Homo sapiens: one gene and its partners. The protein of the gene in region 3 purifies or fractionates together with the protein of the main gene of each other region. This does not show direct contact. Each region holds a gene or a part of one and is shown on either strand. Other genes may lie near its edges. The genes, in order: PRRC2C, PLOD2, COLGALT1, COL21A1 and PYGL.

Region 1 (4,573 bases), on a different chromosome or scaffold from region 3:
CATGCAAGCTTCCATGGTGTAGTTGATATGCTATTAAACTGTAATTTCCTGGAGTAATTATACTTTAAAATAAAATTCTTTTTCTAGATCTAATCAACTTTTTTGTTCTTCTCCGAGTTGGCTTGTAGACTGATTAATGGCATTCAAATATAGTATAAAGCCTTGGCAAAGTTAAAGTTCAGGGTTTTCGTTTTTTGTTTGTTGTTGTTGTGGTGGTGGTGGTTGTTGTTGTTTTTGAGACAGAGTCTCTCTCTGTCTCCAGGCTGGAGTGCAGTGGCGGAATCTCAGCTCACTGCAAACTCCACCTCCCAGGTTCAAGTGATTCTCCTGCCCCAGCCTCCCAAGTAGCTGGGGCTACAGGCGCGTGCCACCGCACCCAGCTAATTTTTGTATTTTTAGTAGAGACGGGGTTTCACTATGTTGGCTAGCATAGCCTCAATCTCTTGACCTCGTGATCTGCCTGCCTCGGCCTCCCAAAGTACTGGGATTGTAGACGTGAGCCACCGCGCCCAGCCTAAAGTTTAGTTTTAATGAACGACTTGAATTAAAATAGAAATGCAGTTTTATTTCAGTGTATTTTCTGATGTGGAAATATTGTAAGTTTTCTAACCTGACGTCTCATGCTCTTTTCTACAAGGCACTGCTGCTTAAAATAATAAGAATGTGTTTTTAAAAATAAAGTTTTTATTTATATGCAGGGTTACCTTCAAACTTGGCTCTTAATTTAACTATAAAGGAGTATGAGTATTTTATCTTTAATTTTTTTAATGAAATAAGGCCTGTATGGACCATTTGTTAAGACTCTAAGATTTCAGATTTTTTTCATATTAATCAATCTAGAGAGACTTTGCTATTGAATAGTGGGCTTATATTACATAAGTACTTATGAAGATTGCTCATAACACCAAAATAGTGAAATAAAGTGTTCACAAGAGAAAGGAAAACATTATCATAGTTTAATAAGTTTTATTTGTGCTTTTATTTTCATTCACATTTTATATATTCTCTCTCATGGCAATTTAATTTTAGCTTGTTTATCAGTGAGATGTACCCATGTGATTTTTTTTTCCCCCCTCAATTCTGATACTAGACACATACAATTTTTTTGTTTGTTTTAATGCTCTCTGAGATGTTCTCAAGACACACGTGATTTTAAAGTCAGTGCCTATGTGGCTCTTTTTCCTCCAGTATATTATTTTCCATTCTTTTTTTTTTGGCTGTGTTGCCCAGGCTGGTCTCAAACTCCCAGGCTAAAGTGATCCTCTCACCTCAGCCTCCTGAGTTACTGTTATTACAGTCATGCACCACCATGACCTGCTCACTCTTTTACAACATTCTTAATATTGAATGTAATCCAAGCAATAAAAATGTTATTTGTGATTCTTAACAGCATGCTTTTACATTGGGAGATAAACTTCCATTTTAAATTCATTACTAGTCATTTGAGAAAAGAATTTGTAACAAGCGTGGATTTGTAATTGTGACAAATGACATTCTAGAATGAATTATGTTTGAAGATAACTAGTGATCACTCTGTTGTCTTCAGACTTAAACTCATTAGTTTTCCTTACAGATAATAGTCCCTTTACCCAATAAATAACTAAATAAACCAACATGCTCTCTTTTTAAGTATTTATAGGCCATTTGTGTTTTCATGTAGATTTTAATGAACTACCAGTAAATACTGACAATTACATTGATGTTTATTGAAACAAATAAAAAATATGTGGAGTTGGAAATGTTTCATTATTTAAAAAAAAAAAACATAGATTTTATATGATGAAGCATTTGGATCTCTGCTCTCCATCTCTAAGAATGCAGCTTTTAGGAAATCTAAGGTTTTGATAATCTAATGTTACCTCATTGATAACTACCAATGTTAAAGTAGAAAATAATGTTTTAGAGTGTCGAGGATATTTTCTTCCTCATTAACTTTTATTATACCTCAGTCTTTGTAAAAATCCTGTGTTTGATAAGTGTCATAGATGAATACTATTACCTTTCACCTTTTCTTTGAGCAGAGGAGGAACCCGTTTTCACTAGACAAGACAGCAATCGCAGTGAAAAGGAAGCCACACCAGTGGTGCATGAAACAGAACCAGAATCAGGGTCTCAACCTCGGCCGGCTGTATTATCTGGCTATTTCAAACAGTTTCAGAAGTCTTTACCTCCACGATTCCAGCGGCAGCAGGTAATGATAAAAATATTTTATCATGTATGTGTGATTGAAGTGGTTTATTATGCAGTAGTCTGGGAAATTAGACATAAAACTGATAATACGTAAAGCACACAAAGTTCCCTTGAAATTATTTTTCCTTGTAAATAAAAGTTAACGTGGGTTTTACCTTGACCTTCTGTGTCATTCCTTTTGATCTTCTGCCTCATTTATAGACACCATCTTCCATTTCTAGGAGATAGATCATACAGTGCTTGAGTATAAGGTAAAATGTTATAGTTCATCTTTCAGTTTTTTGTCTTGCCAACTCTTAACTGTTAAATACCTTTTGAACTCTTACTTTTCCTTCAAGGATTCAAAACAGGCCATTATTTTGTGATATGATTGATTATGTTAATTTGTCATGTGGAACTAAACTCTCAAGATATGGGATCTTACTTTTTCAGGAACAGATGAAACAGCAGCAGTGGCAGCAGCAGCAACAGCAAGGTGTACTTCCACAGACTGTTCCTTCACAACCGTCCAGTAGTACTGTCCCTCCTCCACCACACAGACCTCTTTATCAGCCTATGCAGCCTCATCCTCAGCATTTGGCTTCTATGGGTTTTGATCCAAGGTGGCTCATGATGCAGTCCTACATGGATCCTCGAATGATGTCAGGAAGACCTGCTATGGATATTCCACCCATTCATCCTGGTCAGTTGAATTTGCATTTATAGTTTTACAGGATCAAAATTTTTTTTTCCCTGCTTTTAGTTTCAGTTCCTTTGAGAGTTGTAATCTAGGAAAAACTTAAACCTCCGATTTTTAATCAAAATGATGTAACTTTCAGCATCGAGTAATTAAATATCTGACACTCATATTACTTATGTGGCAAGAACAAAATACTAGTTCATTTCTGTTTTGTAAGTATTATTTAAAACTTCAGATGGAAATAATTATGTGTTATTAACAGTATTTGTTATTGGCTACATTGTTGTTCTTCTTTAAAGTGTTTTCAGCGTTTGAATTTTGTCCATATGTTATATATATTCCTTTTCAAGTTCTTCTTCCATCATTTACCAACCTAACACTTGAATTTCCTTTTAGGTTAGGGGGAAAAAAAGTGAATTAGCAGTCTTTTATGGAATCCATCAGAATAAATCAAGATAATCTATTACCAAAATGTTACAGAGGAAAATTTAGGGATGATAAGCTGATCACAAATCATGTTTTGATTTTTACATTTATACTGGTATTTGGAAATTTAAGTGGCATATTTTGTAGAATATTGACCAACTAAGGTAGGTTAATGGAATTTAGGAAAGAATTTTCTCTGAAAGTTATCATAGTATAATTTTCATGATGTTTGTATTGACATCCAGAGTCACAGTACTTGGTGTCTGATTTTTATATGCATAATATTTTCTTTCTTTTGAAGTAAAACAGGCTGCTATTGTGATTTTGCTTATTTTGCTTCCTCAGTTCTTAAATGCAATTTTTATTTAACAGCAGTAATAAAATTCCATTCACAGAACAACCCTTACATAATTTCCACCAATCTTTTACTCAGGAAAAAAATGCTTTTAATATGGAGAATTCCACCTAACAATTAATAACCTGTATTCTATGTCTATCATGGTTTTGTTTCGTTCATTTTTCAAAATCCTCATTTCACCTTTTTCTGAACTTTTGTTACAGGAATGATTCCTCCTAAACCATTAATGAGAAGAGACCAGATGGAAGGGTCACCGAACAGTTCTGAGTCATTTGAGCATATAGCTCGATCTGCAAGAGATCACGCAATTTCCCTTTCTGAGCCTCGTATGCTGTGGGGGTCAGATCCCTATCCTCATGCTGAGCCTCAACAAGCAACTACTCCCAAAGCAACAGAAGAGCCTGAGGATGTAAGGTAATAAATTATTTCAATTTAATAGATGATACAGAATATTTTGGTAAAAGGAAAACTGTGTAGTGTTTCTGAAGATCATTCCAATTTAGGACTGAAGCATAAATCTGGTTTCCTTCTATTTAATTTAGCATGCTACGCTTACTCTTTGGACATATTCTCTGTATTCATTAGGGCATTTTGTAACCTGGTTCTGTACTCAATTGTATGCTGTAATTTAGTATTAGATGTTGAAATTGGTAGGTTCTTTTTTGAGATAGGAACTTGCTCTGTTATTCAGGCTGGAGTGCGTTGGTATGATCTTGGCTCACTGCAGCGTTCACCTCCCAGGCTCAAGTGATCGGCTTACCTCAGCTTCCTGAGTGGCTGAGACTACATGCGTTCACCACCACACCCCGCTAATCTTTGTGGGGTTTTTTGTTTTGTTTTTGTTTTTGTTTTTGTTTTTGAGACAGAGTCTTGCTCTGTCTCCCAGGCTGGAGTGCAGTGGCGCGATCTCAGCTCACTGC
Region 2 (4,573 bases), on a different chromosome or scaffold from region 3:
ATAGACAGGGTCTCACTCTGTAGGTCAGGCTAGAATGCAGTGACGCTATCATAGCTCACTACAGCCTGAAACTGCTGGGCTCAGATGATCCTGCTTATCACCTCAGCCTCCCAAGTAGCTGGGACTGCAACTCTGTTGTTGTTATCTTTATTCTGCTTACCACCTTAAAGCCTACATGTTGCAACCCATATTTGGTAATTACACTACTAAAGATGGTGCAGCAGTACAGAATTGATTACTGCCCGACTGTGTCACAAAGATACCTCTTCAAAAAATAGTTTATAATTTAAAAATGTAGTATCTTCAAATAAGTTTTTGTTTTCAGAGTAACTTTACAAGCAATTCAAAGAGCAAAGATACATCGTTTTTATACACAAAAGGAAGATTTTCATTACAGATTTTCTTTTGTGTATTAAAAGAGGGAAGTGTACTTTTGTTAATTTTAATTTGGTTTTCTTCAAAACAATACAATCAGGTTTATGCATTTACATACTTAGTTACTGATTGACTCATGCATTTTTTTCAGGCCTTGATTGTTTTAGTAGCACATTGTGGCAGATTTAGGAAAATAAAAATCATTTTAAAATTTCTATTAAAATATGGATATACTCCCCCTTTCTTGAATTTATTTCTTAAAGGAGATGTGATTAAGTGAGAAAATGCTTAATTTGTTAGTGTGGAAATATGCTTCATGTTTACAATTTCTTTTCCGCTATAAGAAATTAGGTTTAAAGTTTAGTTTGTATAGGTTTGTAATTAAATTTTAACCAGGAAAAAATCTATAAATAGCAACTGGATAACCTTTGCTCTTCATTTCAAGAGCAATTAACACTAACTTTTTTTTTTTTTTGCTGTTCTTTTTTATTATTAGTCTTCTCACAAGGGAGTATCAGTTTCTGTGCAAGTTCATGAGTGATGGGGATACTCCCCAGGCATTATCAATACAGAAGTGACAAGGTATACTACATTGGAGTGTCCTTTCCTTTTTTGGTTGAAGAACTACTGTATTTATAATAAAAATCTACACCAGAAGTTTAAAGAAAAAACCGTATTTCAAGTTTGAATACAATAAAGAACATGATTATTACTGTAAATATACTCAATAGACTTTTAATACAAATAAAAGTCTTGGTGAACATATGGCTAAAATGAGGGGCTACTTGAGGCAGGAAAGTGGTCAGGAAAAGTGTTTCATATAAACATTGGTGAATTTTCAAAAATGGGCCAGAGTTGAAATTAAATATCATTTGTTACACTGATAGTTTATTGATTTTAATATTGCTTTTATTATCTTGTGTGCATAAGACATCCTGGTGCATTAACTAATCATCTGCTCATTTAATTTGGGGTTATATTCTCAAATTTTTACAAAGAACTTTCTCATTTGCTTTCTAGTTACTGCTAACCTATTTTAGGGTTCCTTCCAAACGGTAGGTGAGAGATAGGACTTTCCTCTGATTTAAATGCTGTTTTTCTTATCTTTTTTTTTTTTTTTGTGCTGTGGACAGGTAAAAATTCTTTATGGAACAAAGGAATTTTCAAGTACACATAATTTTTATTGTTCTTGACAGTACTCCTGGTCAGTCTCGGACACTCAAGTGCAGTAAGGAGATACTGAATATGCATCATGCTCCACAGCTTGACCCTCCCACAGGCACAGCAACAAGCGAAATAGATATGTGGATTTTGGCAACCTTGGCTTTGTGATGCTAGGGCATCGATCTGGCCTGGGAGAAGAAAAGCTCCAGAAGCTATACTTTATTCCAGAGCCCCAGCACACAGTGTCTCATAGGCAAGGCTGCTCTGTCATTGACTATTCTGTTTTAAATGGTTTGAAGCCACAACTTTTGTGGGCTTTCAGGTGCGAAATACTTAACAGATGCTGCACACAGGGCTAAGAAGGGGGCCAGTAACATTTAGGTCTTTTAAAATGCATTCTCTAACAGGTTCTTTAAACATTTAAATCTTTCCTTCCTGTTTCTAGCAATGTACTAAACACCAACAGCTATCTCATCTTTAAAAATTCTGCAAATACAGAATTTAAATTATTTCTTTTTGAAAAAAGGAACCAGCTAACAGTTTGCTGGTAGACTAAAATGATCTCCATAATGTGATCACCTGGGGAAGTCTTAGAGCGCTGTTGTTATGAAGAGGGCGGATGGGTTCTTTGATGGGATTTTCCGGTCTTGTCCAAGCCAGCTCTGAGGCACCTTGTCTTCAGAGGCCTCTTCTCCTGCTCTGGCTATGCTGGTTCTTTCCTGGCCTCCAGCTGGCACCACAGTGGTGACCAGAATGCCCTGCTGGTCCAGGGCCTCTGGAATTCCTGCCGGCCACGTCTAGAGAAGGACAATCCTCCTTTTCTTCTTAGTTTAGTTTAGACAAGGTTGGAATTTTTTAAACAGTGACTTTACTAAGTAACCAAGGGCAAAACAAAACAAAACCTCACACTGGAAAATCACCGAAGCAAAGAAATGAACAGACTTACAAAGCAGAGATTCAGAGTTCTTACTCTTCTCTGACTTTGGTATAGTTCTGTATTGAAATTCTAAGATTCTTGCAGGGAAAATAATGTATATATAAAACTGAGCAAATCAAAGAAGCACTTATGGGTAAGCAACCTGGATACCTGCACACCCAGCACATTTTGAGGGTTCATGAATTCTGTGTCCTTGTCCAGCGTTTCTTTCTCCCCTCTTCACTCTCATTCCTCACTTCTTCCTACCACTTTCTTTTACACAGATGACTCTTCTCCATGATTGGAGTCCATGAGATCCATGGGTAGACAAGTGGTAATAGATGGTCTAGGTATATTTGTCATTTCTTAGGGACATATTACATTACATATTAGCATAACTGTAGCCATTGGACACTTAATTTTCTTCACTAGATAGAATTTTTTTTTTTTGAGACGGAGTCTTGCTCTGTCGTCCAGACTGGAGTGGAGTGGTGCAATCTCGGCTCACTGCAACCTCTGCCTCCCGGGTTCAAGCGATGCTCCTGCCTCAGCCTCCTGAGTAGCTGGCATTACAGGTGCGTGCCACCACGGCCAGGTAATTTTTGTATATTTAGTAGAAACGGGGGTTTCACCATATTGGTCAGGCTGGTCTTAAACTCCTGACCTCAGATGATCCACCTGCCTCAGCCTCCCAAAGTGCTGGGATTACAGGCATGAGCCACTGCACCTGGCCAATAGGTAGAAAATTTTTATGCTGTTGCCCATGACTATTTTTGTATTGCTTTAATTCTTGATTTTAGTAGCAGTTTGTGTATGCTTTTATAAACCTATATAATTTAGTAAATCTACATTAGTTTATTTAGCTAAGCTTTACAAATTCCCTCATAATACAACTTTTTTAGAGGTAACTAACAGCATTGTAAATTTTTAGATGCAAATGTATGCCAACAATAATTCCCATTGTGTAATACTGTGAAATTTTGGTAATTAATATTTTAAAAAATAATTGGAGTATTTATTGACTGGCTAGTCTGTGTTCTGTTGCTTTGTGTGAAGGAAAAACAGAAAAAACAAACCAGAATGAACAAACAAAAACCACACAAGGCTCAGTTCCTGTTCTGTATTGAAATTCTAAGATTCTTACAGGGAAAATAATGTATGTATAAAACGGAGCAAATCTGAGAAGCACTTACGGGTAAGCAACCTGGGCTGCAGGGAAGAACACACACATCTGGCATCAGGAAACCTACATCTAAGTTCTCATCCTTCCACTCACCAACCTTGAGCCGATTCTTGAGCCTCGTCAGATTTTACTTGTAATTTGTGATCCTTACAGTGCTGTGATTTGATGTCTCTTGACTTTTTTTTTTTTGAAACGGAGTTTCGTTCTTCTTGTCCAGGCTGGAGTGCAATGGCGCGATCTTGGCTCACTGCAACCTCCGCCTCTCGGGTTCAAGCGATTCTTCTGCCTCAGCCTCCTCAGTTGCTGGGATTACAGGCATGCGCTACTATGCCCTGCTAATTTTGTATTTTTAGAAGAGACCGGGTTTCTCTATTTTTGTCAGGCTGGTCTTGAACTCCCAACCTCAGGTGATCCGCCCACCTCAGCCTCTTGAAGTGCTGGGATTACAGGCGTGAGCCACCGTGCTTGGCCAATGTCTCTTGACTTTTAAGTGTCAGAATGGTGGTAGAGACAGAGTGCTGCAGGAATCAGAAAAGAGGTCTCAAGAAAACTTACTATTATTTGTTAGGCCAAAGAAGGCATAGATATAAGGTTGTTTTGTGTTTTAAATTCTACTTTTTCTACTGGTTGTTGTATCAAGATCTGGACTTGGCCAGGACTTGGTGTTGCTTTTTTCTCTTAATTAGCTTTTGATTTAGATGCAGGACAGTAGGCCAAGAATAACTAGAATTAAATTTACATTTAAAAAGGTTCCAAGTGTTTTTATATGAGAAGAGAAAACAAGTCTGGTGTTTTTATGAAGCTATTTTCTGTTTTCAGAGAGGAACCGTATCCTCTTCAGTACATTTAAATATTGTATGCTGTTAAAAAAATAAACTTATATTCATCTGTTTCAGTCCTGACCTTTAAGTCAAATAAATTAATAACAATTATGC
Region 3 (4,573 bases):
GTCTCTGTTGCCCAGGTTGGAGTGCAGTGGCACAATCTCGGCTCACTGCAGCCTCCTCCTCCTGGGTTCAAGCAATTCTTCTGCCTCAGCCTCCTGGGTAGCTGGGATTACAGGCCCCCGCCATCATGCCTGGCTAATTTTTGTAATTTTAGTAGAGACGGGGTTTCGCCATGTTGGCCAGGCTGGTCTCTAAAGTCCTGACCTCAGGTGATCCAGCTGCCTCGGCCTCCCAAAGTGCTGGGATTATAGGTGTGAGCCACCACATCCAGCCCATCTCTTAAAACAAACAAACAAAAAGCAGAAAAGAAAAAGCAAAGAGTCAAGTGAGCAAAGTGATTACGATGCAGTGGTGGCTAGAGGTCCAACTACACAGGCCAGTGGAGGCACTTGGTGTCTACTTGGAGGGGAATGGGGAGCCATGGAGGGTGTGTGAGCAGGGGAGGTCTGTGTTCTGATTTGAGATTTTCAGAAGCCTCTGTGGACCAGGCGCGGTGGCTCATGCCTCTAAATTCAGTACTTTGAGTGGCTGAGGCAAGTGGATTGTTTGACTTCAGGAGTTTGAGACCAGCCTGGTCAACATGGTGAAACCCTGTTTCTACCAAAATATAAACATTAGCTTGGCATGGTGATGCGCGCCTGTAACCCCAGCTACTTGGGAGGCTGAGGCAGGAGAATGTCTTGAACCCGGGAGGCAGAGGTTGCAGTGAGCTGAGATTGCACCACTGCGCTCCAGCCTGGGCGACAGAGTGAGACTATGTCTCAAAAAAAAAAAGCCACACACTAGCAGGAAGCTGGAGTAGAGGCCCAAGCAGGGTATCAGCGATTGATGGACAGGCCTGCATGGGGTGGGGGCCGTGGAGAAAGGCAGGGGGTTCAGGATGCGTCACGAGGTGAAGGAGACAGGTTCTGCTTTGACACTGGATGTGAAGGTGCCAGGGAGAGAGGAACGGGGACAGTGCCACATCTAGGGAGGACGGATGGAGCTCCTGAGGGGACCCTTTCGCTTGGTGCCTTATCAGACCATTTTATAGGTGAGGAAACAGGCTGACGGAGGGGACATCTTGCCTGGTGGGGTGTCAGAACTGGCAAGGAGGCAGAGAGGTGGATCTGGAGCCTTCCAGAGCCTTCTGACACAAAGCTGCCTTGTCCTGCCTCTAGGATTTTGCTTTTGTGGTTTGAGGTTGCCTGGCTTTAGCTTTTTTTTCCCTCAGCAAACCGGGGTGGAACTCAAAGTGCTGGTTCAAAACTCAAAGTGGCTTTTGACACAAAATAATATTTTCGTGTTTCTTTTTTTTTTTTTTTTTTTTTGAGACAGTGTCTCACTCTGTCGCCCAGGCTGGAGTGCAGTGGCGCGATCTTGGCTCACTGCAGCCTCCACCTCCTGGGGTCAAGTGACTCTCCTGCTTCGGCCTCCCAAGTAGCTGGGACTACAGATGCTTGCCACCATGCCCGGCTATTTTTTTTTTTGTGACGGAGTCTCACTCTGTCGCCCAGGCTGGAGTGCAGTGGTGCGATCTCAGCTCACTGCAAGCTCTGCCTCCCAGGTTCATGCCATTTTCCTGCCTCAGCCTCCTGAATAGCTGGGACTACAGGCGCCCGCCACAACACCCGGCTAATTTTTTGTATTTTTAGTAGAGACAGGGTTTCACCGTGTTGGCCAGCATGGTCTCGATCTCCTGACCTCGTGATCCACCCGGCTTGGCCTCCCAAAGTGCTGGGATTACAGGCGTGAGCCAGCGCGCCTGGCCCGACTAATTTTTTTTGTATTTTTGTAGAGACAGGGTTTCACTATGCTGACCAGGCTGATCTCGAACTCCTGACTTCAGGTGATCCACCCACCTCGTCCTCCCAAAGTACTACTGGGATTACCGGTGTGAGCCACTGCGCCTGGTCACAAAATTATATTTTTGTAACTGGGGACTTTGGAACCCATATTGGAATGTGAAATAGTTTGTCTAATGTTTTAAAATGATTGTTTGAAGGTCCCCCTTTCTCTCTCTTTTTACAAAAGCTATGGATGTTACTTGCAGGTAAAAAAAATAAATAAAAATATACGAGCTGGGTGTGTCTCACGCCTGTAATCCCAGTGCTTCAGGAGGCCAATGTGGGAGGATCATTTGAGGTCAGGAGTTCAAAACCAGCCTGGGCAACATAGTGAGACCCCCCCCATCTCTACAAAAACTAACAAAAAAAAAAAATTAGCCAGGTGTACTGGTTTGTGTCTGTAGTCCCAGCTAATTGGGAGGCTGAGGTGGGAGGATTGCTTGAGCCCAGGAGTAGGAGGCTGCAATCAGCCATGATTGTGTCACTGTACTCCAGCTTGGGTGACAGAGCGAGACCCTTTCTTAAGCTTCGTATATGTGTATGTGTGTGTGTATGTGTGTGCGTGTGTGTATACATATATACATATATACGTGTATATGTATATATATCTATATATGTATATAAACATATATACGTGTGTGTGTGTATAATATAGATATACATATGAAACAAGAAAGAAAAACATCTACTTTTTTTTTTTTTTTTTTTTTGAGATGGAGTCTCATTTTGTCACCCAGGCTAGAGTGCAGTGGCGCCATCTCGGCTCACTGCAACCTCTGCCTTCTGGGTTCAAGCAATTTTCCTGCCTCAGCCTCCGGAGTACCTGGGATTACAGGTGCCCGCCACCATGCCTGGCTAAGTTTTTGTATTTTTAGTGGAGATGGGGTTTCGCCATGTTGGCCAGGCTGGTCTTGAACTCCTGACCTCAAGTGATCACCTGCCTCAGCCTCCCAAAGTGCTAGGATTGCAGGCGTGAGCCACCGCCCCTGGCCAGCATCTAAATTTTAATTGTATCTCCTGGAGAGATTCACTTTCTCCTCTTTCTTGTTTGTTTTAATTGAAGTCAGTTCACATATATATTTATTTGTTTTGCAACCACCACCTCTAATTCTAGAACATTTTCATTCCCCAGAAAGAAAACCCTATTCCCATCAGCAGTCACTCCCCAACTCCCCATTCCTCTCCCCTAGGCTCTGGCAGCCACTAATCTGCTTCCTGTCTACGGATTTGTCAATGGAATGTCACACTATATGGCGTTTCGTGTCTGGTTTCTCTCACTCAGCATTGAGTTTTCAGGGTTCATTACAGCCTGGATCAGTGCTTCCTTCCTTTGTATGGCTGACTCTTATTCCGTTGTCTGGGTGGACCACGTTATGTTGATCTCCTCATCCGTTGATGGACACACTTCAGTCACTTCCACCTTTTTTGGCTGTTGAGACTTTTTTTTTGAGACAGAGTGTTGCTCTGTCGCGCAGGTTTGCAGTGCAGTGGCACGATCTCGGCTCACTGCAACCTCCATCTCCTGGGTTCAAGCGATTCTCCTGCGTTAGTCTCCCGAGTAGCTGAAATTACAGGCATGTGTCACCATGCCCGGCTAATTATTTTTATTTATTTTTATTTTTAGTAGAGACGGGGTTTCACCGTGTTGCCCAGGCTGGTCTTGGACTCTTGACCTCATGTGATCTGCCTGCCTTGGCATCCCAAAGTGCTAGGATTACAGGTGTGAGCCACTGCACCCGGCCTGGCTGTTGGGATTCTGACATGAACATGAGCGTACAAAGACCTGTTTGAATTATCTGGGCATGGTGGTGCGCGCCTGTATTTAATCCCAGCTACTCAGGAGGCTGAGGCAGGAGAATCATCTGAACCTAGGAGGTGGAGGTTGCAGTGAGCCGAGATCACACCACTGCACTTCAGCCTGGGTGACTGAGCAAGACTCTGTCTCAAAAACAAACAAACAAACAAAGAAGCTGTTTGAGTCCTTTCTTTCAATTCTCTTGGTTCATACCTAGGAATGGAATTCCTGGATCATGTAGTAATTCTATGTTTAGCTTTTTGAGGAACTGCCACAGTGATCTGGCTGTTTGTTCTGCATTAATATTCAAAGGTCACAGATTCAAACATCCAGAGGGACCGGATGGGGTGTGTAACATGACCACAGGGCTTGTCCTAAGACCCAGCCACCTCCCCTCTGCAACTGAAGGTTGCCATGTGGAAATGGTATTCTCACGTTGCCAGGGGATACTGGAATTCTAGTTTTTGTTGTTGTTCATGGCAGTTAATCCAAATATTCTAAACGATACTGCCTGGGTAACAGAAAGCATCTCTGTGGACCAGCAGTAAAAGAAAAAAAATCCAGACCGGGCACAATGGCTCACACCTGTAATCCCAGCACTTTGGGAGGCCGAGGCAGGCGTATCACTTGAAATCAAGAGTTCGAGACCAGCCTGGCCAACCTGGTGAAACCCCATCTCTACCAAAAAATACAAAAATTAGCCTGACGTGGTGGCATGTGTCTGTAATCCCAGCTACTTGGGAGACTCAGGGAGAATTGCTTGAACATGGGAGGTGGAGGTTGCAGTGAGCCGAGATCACGCCGCTGCACTCCAGCCTATGCAACAGGAGACGCCATCTCAAAAAAACAAAAACAAAAACAAAAAACCTTCTGGTAGTTCTGTGATATATCATGACTTCTGTGTCTTTACATCCTGGTAGAGGGGGAACGTCCGGACCTAATCATTTTCTATGT
Region 4 (4,573 bases), on a different chromosome or scaffold from region 3:
TGGTATCAGGTTAATGCTGGCCTTATAAAAATAGTTTAGAAGTGTTTACTCCTCTTCAATTTTTTGAAAGATCTTAAGAAAGATATTAATTCTTCTTTAAATGTCTGGTAGAATTCACCACTGAAGCCACCTGGTACTAGGCTTTTATTGTTGGGGTGTTTTGATTACTGATTTAATTTCCTTTAATCTCTAGTTATAGGTATGTTCATATATTCTATTTATTCATGTTTCAGTTTTGGTAGGTTATATGTTCTAGGAATTTATTCATTTCTTCTAGGTTACCAATTTGTTGATATATAGTCGTTCATAGTGGTCACTTAAAATCCTTTTTATTTCTGTGGCATCAATTGTAATATCTCTTCTTTCACTTCCTGTTTTGAGTCTTCTCTGTTTTTACTTAATTTAGTTAAAGGTTTGTCAATTTTGTTGATTTTTCCAAAAAAGCAACTCTTAGCTTTGTTGACTTCTTTCCATTTTCTATTTTATTTATTACTGCTTAAATCTAAATTATTTTTTTCCTCCTGCTAACTTCGGGCTTAGTTTGTCTTTTTTTTCTGTAGGTCCTTGAGGTATAAAGTTGTTTATTTGATTATTTGATATCCTTTTTCTTTTTTAATGTAGGCATTTATTGCTATAAACTTCTCTCTTAGTACTGTTTTCCTGCATCTCATAAATTTTGGATGTTGTGATTTTGTCATCACGTATTTTCTAACTTTGTCTCTGATTTCTTCTTTGACCTGATGGCTATTCAAAAGTGTGCTATTTAATTTTTACATATTTGTGAATTTTTCAATTTTCCTCCTGTTGTTAATTTTTAGTTTTATTCCATTGTGGTTGGAAAATATACTGGTATGATTTCAGCCTTCTTAAATAAGACATGTTTTGTGATTTAACATGTGGTCTGTCCTGGAGAATGTTTCATGTGCAATTGAAGGGAATGTGTATTCTGCTGCTGTTTGGTGGAATATTCTGTATGCATCTGCTAGGTTCATTTGGTCTATAGTATTGTTCAAGTCTTCTATTTCCTTATTGATCTTCTGTTTGAATGTTCTAATCATTATTGAAATCCTCTACTATTATTGTGTTTCTTTCTATTTCTCCCTTCAGTTCTGTATATGTCTGCCTCGTATTTTTGTTATCATGATGTTGGCTGCATATATAATCATAATTATTATATCTTCCTGGTGAGTTGACCCTTTTATCATAGTAGGATATCTTTCTTTGTCTCTTGTTATAGTTTTGTACTGTGTGATATAAGTATAGACATCTCTGATGTCTTTTGGCTACCATTTGCATGGAATATCTTTTTTCATTTTTTCACTTACAGCCTATGTGTGTCCTTAAATTTAAAGTGAGTCCTTTTCATTTCTCTTTTCTTTTCCTTTCCCTTTTCCCTTTTCCCCCCTTCCCTTCCCTTTCTTTCCCTTCCTTCCCCTTCCCCTTCTCCTTTCCCTTTCCTTTGTCTCATTCTGTTGCGCAGGCTGGAGTGCAGTGGCATGATCATAGCTCACTGCAGCTTCAACCTCCCAGACTCAGTCAATCCTCCCACCTCAGCCTCCTGAGTAGCTGAGACTACAGGCACATGCCACCATGCATGGCTAATTTTGTTGTTTTTTGTTTGTTTGCTTTTGTTTTTGTTTTTGTAGAGATGGGGTTTTGCCATGTTGCCCAGGCTAGAGTCTTTCATAGATAGTATATAGCTGGATCTGTAGCTCTAAACCATTCAGTCTCTCTATGTACTTTGATTAAGGAGTATACTCACTTACATTTAAGGTAATTACTGATAGGGAAAAATTATTGTTGCCATTTTGGTAATTATTTTCTGTCTTTCCTGTAGCTTTTTGTCCCTCTTTTTTTCTTTTACTGTCTTCCTTTGTGTTTTATTGCTTTTTTTGTAGTGATGTCCTTTATCATTTTATTTATCTTCCGTAGGTATTTTCTTTGAGGTTATCATAGGGGTTACATGAAACATCATGTAATTATAACAACTTATTTTAAGTTGGTATGAAATTAAATTACATATAAATATTCTATATTTTTGCTACCTGTCCTTTGTTACTGATGCCACAAATTGCATCTTTTTATATTTTATATCTGTTAACATATTTTTAAAGTTACAGTTTTTAAAAATGCTTTTGTCTTTTAACTTTTACACCAGAATTAAAAGTCATTTATGCACACTGTTACAGTATTATAATATTGTGTGTCTGTCTATATATTTACTTTTATCTGAAAAATTTATACTATCTTATGCTTTTATGTTGCTGATTAGTATACTTCTGTTTGATCTTGAAGGACTCCTTGAGAATTTCTTATAAGGCAGGTCTGATGGTGATGAACTTTCTCAGCTTGTGTTTATCTAGAAAAGTCTTTATTTCTCCTTCATTTTTGAAGAACAGTTCTGCCAGACATAGCATTCTTGTTTGGCAGGTTTTTTCTTTCCTTTCAGCACTTTGAATATGTCATCCCACTCCTGGCCTGCAATGGTGCTATTGAGAAATCTGCTGATAGTCTTATCAAGGTTCCCTTGTACATAACAAGTCTCTTTTTTCTTGCTGCTTTCAAAATGTGATCTTTGCCTTTAACTTTTGACGATTAGATTACAATGTGTCTCAGTGTGGATTTCTTTGGGTTTAACTTAGCATATATTAGGCTTCTTGAATTCGAGTATCCATATCCTTTCCCAGATTTGGGAAGTTGTTGGCCTCATCTCTTTAAATAAGCTTTTTGTCCCCTTTTCACCCTCTTCTTTTTTTTTTTTCTGGAACTCGCAAAATGCATATATTGGTATGCTTGATGGTGTTGCTTAAATCTCTTAGGCTTTCTTCACTCTTTCTCTTCCTTTTTCTTTTTGTTTCTCTAACTGGATAATTTCAAATGACCAATTATTGAGTTTGCTGATTCTTTTCCCTCTGCTTGTTAAAGTCTGCTATTAATCATCTTTAGTAAATTTTTTCAGTCATTGTATACTTCAGCTAAAGTATATCATACTTATTACCTATATAGCTGACTATGTAATGCTAATGATTATTCTTAAGAAAATATTCTTTATAAGTATGATTAATATATAATTATAGATGAGATAATATGTCCGTCTGAAGAACTTTCATGAATAGATGGGACCCAGGTTAAGTTTTTTCCAGAGAGACAGACTAATGATATTTGAGCTATAGAAATATAAGCTGCTTGAACTGGAAAGAAAATCAAGAACAGAAAATACTTTTTACCCCTTAAATGCTAAGAATGCAAGAAAAGAATTTTAGTGTTCATTTTTGAATTAAATAAATTAAAAGCATTATCCAAAGTTGTATGACTAGTTAATAGGAAATCCTGGATGAGAATGATAAATCCTGTTCCATTGTTTTTCTTTTCCATAGGTGTTATATTGTCTCATATTGCTATTGTCTCAATTTTTTGCTAAAGACAATACATTAACAAATATTTATATTTTTGTTTTACTTTTATCCCTTATTTTTTAGAGAAAAAAGCATATTAAGATCTCACTCTTAAATGTGTAAAATACTTCTACATTTTCTCAGAAAATGTATTCATATACATTTATATACTATACATTTGTATACATATGTAGATTTTATAATTCTAATGATAGAATACTATATTGTCTAGTATTTCTCCCTTGATTTTTCTTTTATTGTTTGAATAGTCCATGATTAACCAACTTTTATTGCTTTTGCTTTATAGAATCTGTCTGTCCAACACGAATTCCAGTGGCAGCTCGTGATGAAAGGGGATTTGATATTCTTTTAGGTTTAGATGTAAATAAAAAGGTTAAGAAAAGAATACAGCTTTCACCAAAAAAGATAAAAGGATATGAAGTAACATCAAAAGTTGATTTATCAGAACTCACAAGGTATGCATTATATGTTGACACAACTTTTTTGGGGGGATATGTCTGTGGACATGTCAAGAATTCTTTAAGCTTACACTTGCTCTTCTTTTTCTAGCAATGTTTTCCCAGAAGGTCTTCCTCCATCATATGTATTTGTGTCTACTCAAAGATTTAAAGTCAAGAAAATTTGGGATTTATGGAGAATATTAACTATTGATGGAAGGCCACAAATAGCAGTTACCTTAAATGGTGTGGACAAAATCTTATTATTTACAACAACCAGCGTAATTAATGGCTCACAAGTGGTTACCTTTGCTAACCCTCAAGTTAAGGTAAAGATGCCTGGGATAATACCATGATTATGATATTCATGGGGAAGCACTATTGGGTTTATGTGTGTTGGGGAAAAGAGGGCTATAATTTTAACATGATTGGAAATATTTTTACTTTAAATTTTAATGTTTCTGTGTTGAAGAAAACTAACAAAGAAAGGAAAATTGTTTCTTGATCAATATGGGGACAAATGCTGAGGGGGAACTGACATATTTTGAGTGCCTACTACTAGGTACCAGGCACATTTAATTATAATAGCCATCCAATAAAGAAACCATTGCTCCCATTTTGCAGACAAACTAATATTCAAGGATGTTAAGTTCTCCCTCAAAATAGAACAGCTAATAAGTGATGACATCAGGAATTAAATTTTGGTCTAGTTGACGTCAA
Region 5 (4,573 bases), on a different chromosome or scaffold from region 3:
GCCTCCCAAAGTGCTGGGAATACAGGCATGAGCCATCACACATAGCCGTCATCTTGAAATTCTTAATTTTTGAACAAAAGGTCCTGCAAATTATGTAGCTAGTTGCAGCTAACAGTATTCATAGGACACTCACATAGAAGATGGTTTTCTCTAGTAAAAGAGGATAATAAAGCTCATATAAATAACTAACAGAACCTGGGTTCCTGGTCACTCTTATAAGTAGATTTCCTGTTTTTAACACTTTAATACCAGTGAAGCTGGCCGGGTGTGATGGCTCATGCATGTAATCCAGTGCTTTGAGAAGCCTAGGCAGGAGACTCACTTGAGGCCAGGAGTTTGAAACTAGCCTGGGCAACATGAGACCCACCCCCACCACCACCACCCGTCTCTACAAAAATAAAAAGATTAGCCAGGTGTTGTGGCATGCACCTGTAATCCTAGCTACTCAGAGGCTGAGGCAAGAGGATTGCTTGAGCCCAGGAGGTCAAGGCTGCAGTGAGCTATGATCACGACATTGCTTTACAGCCTGGGTGACAGGGTGAGATCCTGTCGCCAAAAAAATTAAATAAAAATAAAAATAATTTTTAGGCCGGGTGCAGTGGCTCACACGTGTAATCCCAGCACTTTGGGAGGCCGAGGAGGGCAGATCACAAGGTCAGGAGATCGAGACCATTCTGGCTAACACAGTGAAACCCCGTCTCTACTAAAAATACAAAAAAAAATTAGCCAGGCGTGGTGGCAGGCGCCTGTAGCCCCAGCTACTGGGGAGGCTGAGGCAGGAGAATGGCATGAACCCAGGAGGCGGAGCTTGCAGTGAGCCGAGATCGTGCCACTGTACTCCAGCCTGGGCGACAGAGCGAGACTCCATCTCAAAAAAAATGAATAAATAAATAAAAATAAATAAATAAAAATAATTTTTAAAAACTGCTGAAACTACATTTAAGATACTAGCAAAAGTGTTCTTCTCACATAGACTTTATAGACTCTTCTTTGAGTCAAACTATCCCATGTTCTGTGTGATACGTGAACTACACTGTGGTAGGTGACAGAGAGAAATACTGACAGAAACTGCCCATTTGGACTTGATTACCATCCCCAAATTGAAGTCATCTTTTCCTTTGAATTGAAAGAAAATTGGAGAAGACTATGTGAAAGACCTGAGCCAGCTGACGAAGCTCCACAGCTTCCTGGGTGATGATGTCTTCCTCCGGGAACTCGCCAAGGTGAAGCAGGTGAGCCTTCCAGGTGTGGGTCCCCTCCTGGGCACTCACTGTGAGAGTTTATCCTGTAGTTTTTGTTTATTTTTTGAGACAGAGTCTCGCTCTGTTGCCCAGGCTGGAGTGCAGTGGCACGATCTCGGCTCACTGCAACCTCCGCCTCCCAGGTTCAAGCGATTATCCCGCCTCAGCCTCCCAAGCAGCTGGGATGACAGGCGCCCGCCACCACGCCCGGCTAATTTTTGTATTTTTAGTAGAGACAGGGTTACACTATGTTGGCTAGGCTGGTCTCGAACTCCTGACCTCAAGTGATCCACCCGCCTCGGCCTCTCAAAGTGCTGAGATTACAGCCATGAGCCACCACACCCGGCCTATCCTGTAGTTTTTAAAAACAGACCACCCAGCCGGGCGCGGTGGCTCATCCCTGTAATCCTAGCACTTGGGCAGCCAAGGAGGGTGAATCACCTGAGGTCAGGCATTCAAGACCACTCTGGCCAACATGATGAAACCCCGTCTCTACTAAAAATACAAAAATTAGCCAGGCAGTAGTGGTGTATACCTGTAATCCCTGATAGGATAATCGCTTGAATGTGGGAGGTGGAGGCTGCGGTGATCTGAGATCATGCCACTGCACTCCAGCCTGGGCAAAAGAGTGAGACTCCGTCTCAAAAAAAAGAAAAACCAGACCACCCAATTCTTCTAGGCCAAAAGAGCTCTGGCACCATGCACTGTCTTAACAGGAGAATAAGCTGAAGTTTTCTCAGTTCCTGGAGACGGAGTACAAAGTGAAGATCAACCCATCCTCCATGTTTGATGTCCAGGTGAAGAGGATACATGAGTACAAGCGACAGCTCTTGAACTGTCTGCATGTGATCACGATGTACAACCGTGAGTCAGCCCTGTAGCCAACAAGCCCCCTTGCAGGTGGAAGCAGCAGACTCAGCATAGGTCTCACTGCCCTGACCGTCAGCTGTCTTCCATTTCATCCACTTCTCCATCTTTTTCAGGCATTAAGAAAGACCCTAAGAAGTTATTCGTGCCAAGGACAGTTATCATTGGTGGTAAAGTAAGTTGAATCTATTCAATGGGGACTTGAGGGCTCTAATCTCTTGCCATTCTTCTACTTCATCATGGCTGCCTTCTGTCAATGCGTTTGACCTTCTTCCCCAAAGGCTGCCCCAGGATATCACATGGCCAAAATGATCATAAAGCTGATCACTTCAGTGGCAGATGTGGTGAACAATGACCCTATGGTTGGAAGCAAGTTGAAAGTCATCTTCTTGGAGAACTACAGAGTATCTCTTGCTGAAAAAGGTACTACCCTCATTGCAAAATATGCAGGGGCCAGGGCAAACTCTAGAGATTACATGGTATGAAAGATGGGGCAGCCAACCTCCAGGAGCTAGTAACTTAGGATAGAAGGTGTCACTCTTGTGCAGAATAAGGGCCTACGGTAAGAGGTTTTAAAGTGACCCAAGTCACAATGAAATTGATGTCCTGGAGTCAGTATCACAGGATTATACTTGCAAGTACATTTTCTTCCAAGCCAGTGAGAGCTATGTGCTGGGGGAGGCAGCCCTGGGGTTTCAGCATCATTCAGAACCCGCTCTATAAAACAGAGGAAAGGTCTTCAGTTCCCAGCCCCAGTTTTGCAAGAGAACACCAAATCCCCAGTCTTCAGATATTTCTTTGGTCACCCTGTGAGAAGAAGGGCTGTCACTTGCTCTTGTATCAATAATAAATGAGGGCAGATGTGAGGCTGCCAAAGCACGAGGCTTAGATGTGCCTCACATGGGCACTTCAGCATCAAGCATGATGCTCCCACATGGGGACAGCCAGATGGGCAAGAAGCCAGTGTCCCTTTCTCTTCCACTGGGACCTTTGGTTATTTGGGTCACAAGCTCACAGAGCACCATCCACATGCAAATGCCCAACTGTGTATTCACCCACTTCCCAAACTGAAAAGGTAGAAAGGGAGCTTTTTCTTTTTGTGGTGTTTTTAGGTCCTCTGATGTTACTGTTTAAGAACTCTCTGCATAAAGGGAGAAGAGCCAGGTTCCTAGGGATGCAAAAGAAGATACATCTAATCCACAAATAAGCTCTCACAGTAAAGCAGAAAAGTGGTCCTGACCTTTGTAGTCAAAGGAAGTGCTTCAGGCAGCTCTAATTTGCGTGCAAATCAGCCTGAAAGGTCAGAGGCTAGATGTCTAGCCCCAGGCACACCTCAATTACGTGTGGCTTATTTCCCTGCAGGAAAAGTGGAAGGAAGGAGGTGAGAAGTAGAAGGAATGCAGACAATCCAGTCTCCTCAGGTTGCCAAAGAGGAGTCCTGGAGGGACACTCTGAATGTTATGGATCAAGAGAGAGAAGTTCAGCCTGGGCAGCATAGGGAGACCCCATACATACAAAAATTTTAAAAAATTAGCTGGACATGGTGGTGCTCGCTTGTAATTGCAGCTACTTGGGAGGCTGGGGCAGGAAGATTGCTTGAGCCTAGGAGGTCAAGGCTGCAGAGAGCTGTAATCGCACCACTGCACTCCAGCCTGGGTGACAGAGAGAGACCCTGTACCAAAAAAGAGAAAGAAAAAAAGAGAAATTTCAATATATTTTATAAAGTAGAAGAAATAAAAATAAAACTGTAACAAAAATTGGAAGGAATAAAAGGAAGAAGAGAAATGTAGTATCAATGTTTGTCGCAGTCAATAGATACTCTTCAAAGTTTATAGCTCGAGAAAGAAATACAAGCATATAAAATGGACAAAAGTGGTTGCCTGAGTCAAGGGGAAAGAGTGTGATCTGCCTTCTAGACCATTTGAATGTTTATCTTAATGTGCATGTATTACTTTAATTATCAAAACAGCCCAACTTAATAAATGCTTCAATACAATACAAGCAGATCTAGACAGACAAAATTACTAATTTTAACTTACCTTTCTTGCAGTCATTCCAGCCACAGATCTGTCAGAGCAGATTTCCACTGCAGGCACCGAAGCCTCGGGGACAGGCAATATGAAGTTCATGCTAAATGGGGCCCTAACTATCGGGACCATGGATGGGGCCAATGTGGAAATGGCAGAAGAAGCTGGGGAAGAGAACCTGTTCATCTTTGGCATGAGGATAGATGATGTGGCTGCTTTGGACAAGAAAGGGTAAGAGAATAGCTTCTCTTTGCTAGGCAGGACTGCCCCTCCCCCCTAGAAGGTATGTGACCTCAGAGGGCTTCCTGCCCACACCGATATCCCACTGAAATTGGATCACATAAGAGGTGGCAGCAGAACATCTCCCACGATGAGGCAGGAGAGCCTCCTGGCCACAGATTAATATTATTAAACCCAGCAAATAAAAGTACAGACACA

What was found.
Region 1: the proteins of COLGALT1 (region 3) and PRRC2C fractionate together in Homo sapiens (co-fractionation; one large-scale study listed by BioGRID). This does not show direct contact.
Region 2: the proteins of COLGALT1 (region 3) and PLOD2 fractionate together in Homo sapiens (co-fractionation; one large-scale study listed by BioGRID). This does not show direct contact.
Region 4: the proteins of COLGALT1 (region 3) and COL21A1 purify together in Homo sapiens (co-immunoprecipitation; one large-scale study listed by IntAct). This does not show direct contact.
Region 5: the proteins of COLGALT1 (region 3) and PYGL fractionate together in Homo sapiens (co-fractionation; one large-scale study listed by BioGRID). This does not show direct contact.

Annotation. Positions count from the first base shown.
Region 1 is NC_000001.11:171,533,407-171,537,979, forward strand, and holds part of PRRC2C (protein PRRC2C), read left to right. Parts: intron 1-2,021; coding exon 2,022-2,191; intron 2,192-2,622; coding exon 2,623-2,872; intron 2,873-3,856; coding exon 3,857-4,067; intron 4,068-4,573. UniProt on the Homo sapiens protein: Required for efficient formation of stress granules.
Region 2 is NC_000003.12:146,150,752-146,155,324, reverse strand, and holds part of PLOD2 (procollagen-lysine,2-oxoglutarate 5-dioxygenase 2 isoform 1 precursor), read left to right. Parts: intron 1-4,573. UniProt on the Homo sapiens protein: Forms hydroxylysine residues in -Xaa-Lys-Gly- sequences in collagens. These hydroxylysines serve as sites of attachment for carbohydrate units and are essential for the stability of the intermolecular collagen cross-links.
Region 3 is NC_000019.10:17,561,901-17,566,473, forward strand, and holds part of COLGALT1 (procollagen galactosyltransferase 1 precursor), read left to right. Parts: intron 1-4,573. UniProt on the Homo sapiens protein: Beta-galactosyltransferase that transfers beta-galactose to hydroxylysine residues of type I collagen. By acting on collagen glycosylation, facilitates the formation of collagen triple helix. Also involved in the biosynthesis of collagen type IV.
Region 4 is NC_000006.12:56,170,258-56,174,830, reverse strand, and holds part of COL21A1 (collagen alpha-1(XXI) chain isoform a precursor), read left to right. Parts: intron 1-3,702; coding exon 3,703-3,871; intron 3,872-3,965; coding exon 3,966-4,182; intron 4,183-4,573.
Region 5 is NC_000014.9:50,909,688-50,914,260, reverse strand, and holds part of PYGL (glycogen phosphorylase, liver form), read left to right. Parts: intron 1-1,130; coding exon 1,131-1,232; intron 1,233-1,957; coding exon 1,958-2,105; intron 2,106-2,224; coding exon 2,225-2,283; intron 2,284-2,389; coding exon 2,390-2,531; intron 2,532-4,158; coding exon 4,159-4,366; intron 4,367-4,573. UniProt on the Homo sapiens protein: Allosteric enzyme that catalyzes the rate-limiting step in glycogen catabolism, the phosphorolytic cleavage of glycogen to produce glucose-1-phosphate, and plays a central role in maintaining cellular and organismal glucose homeostasis.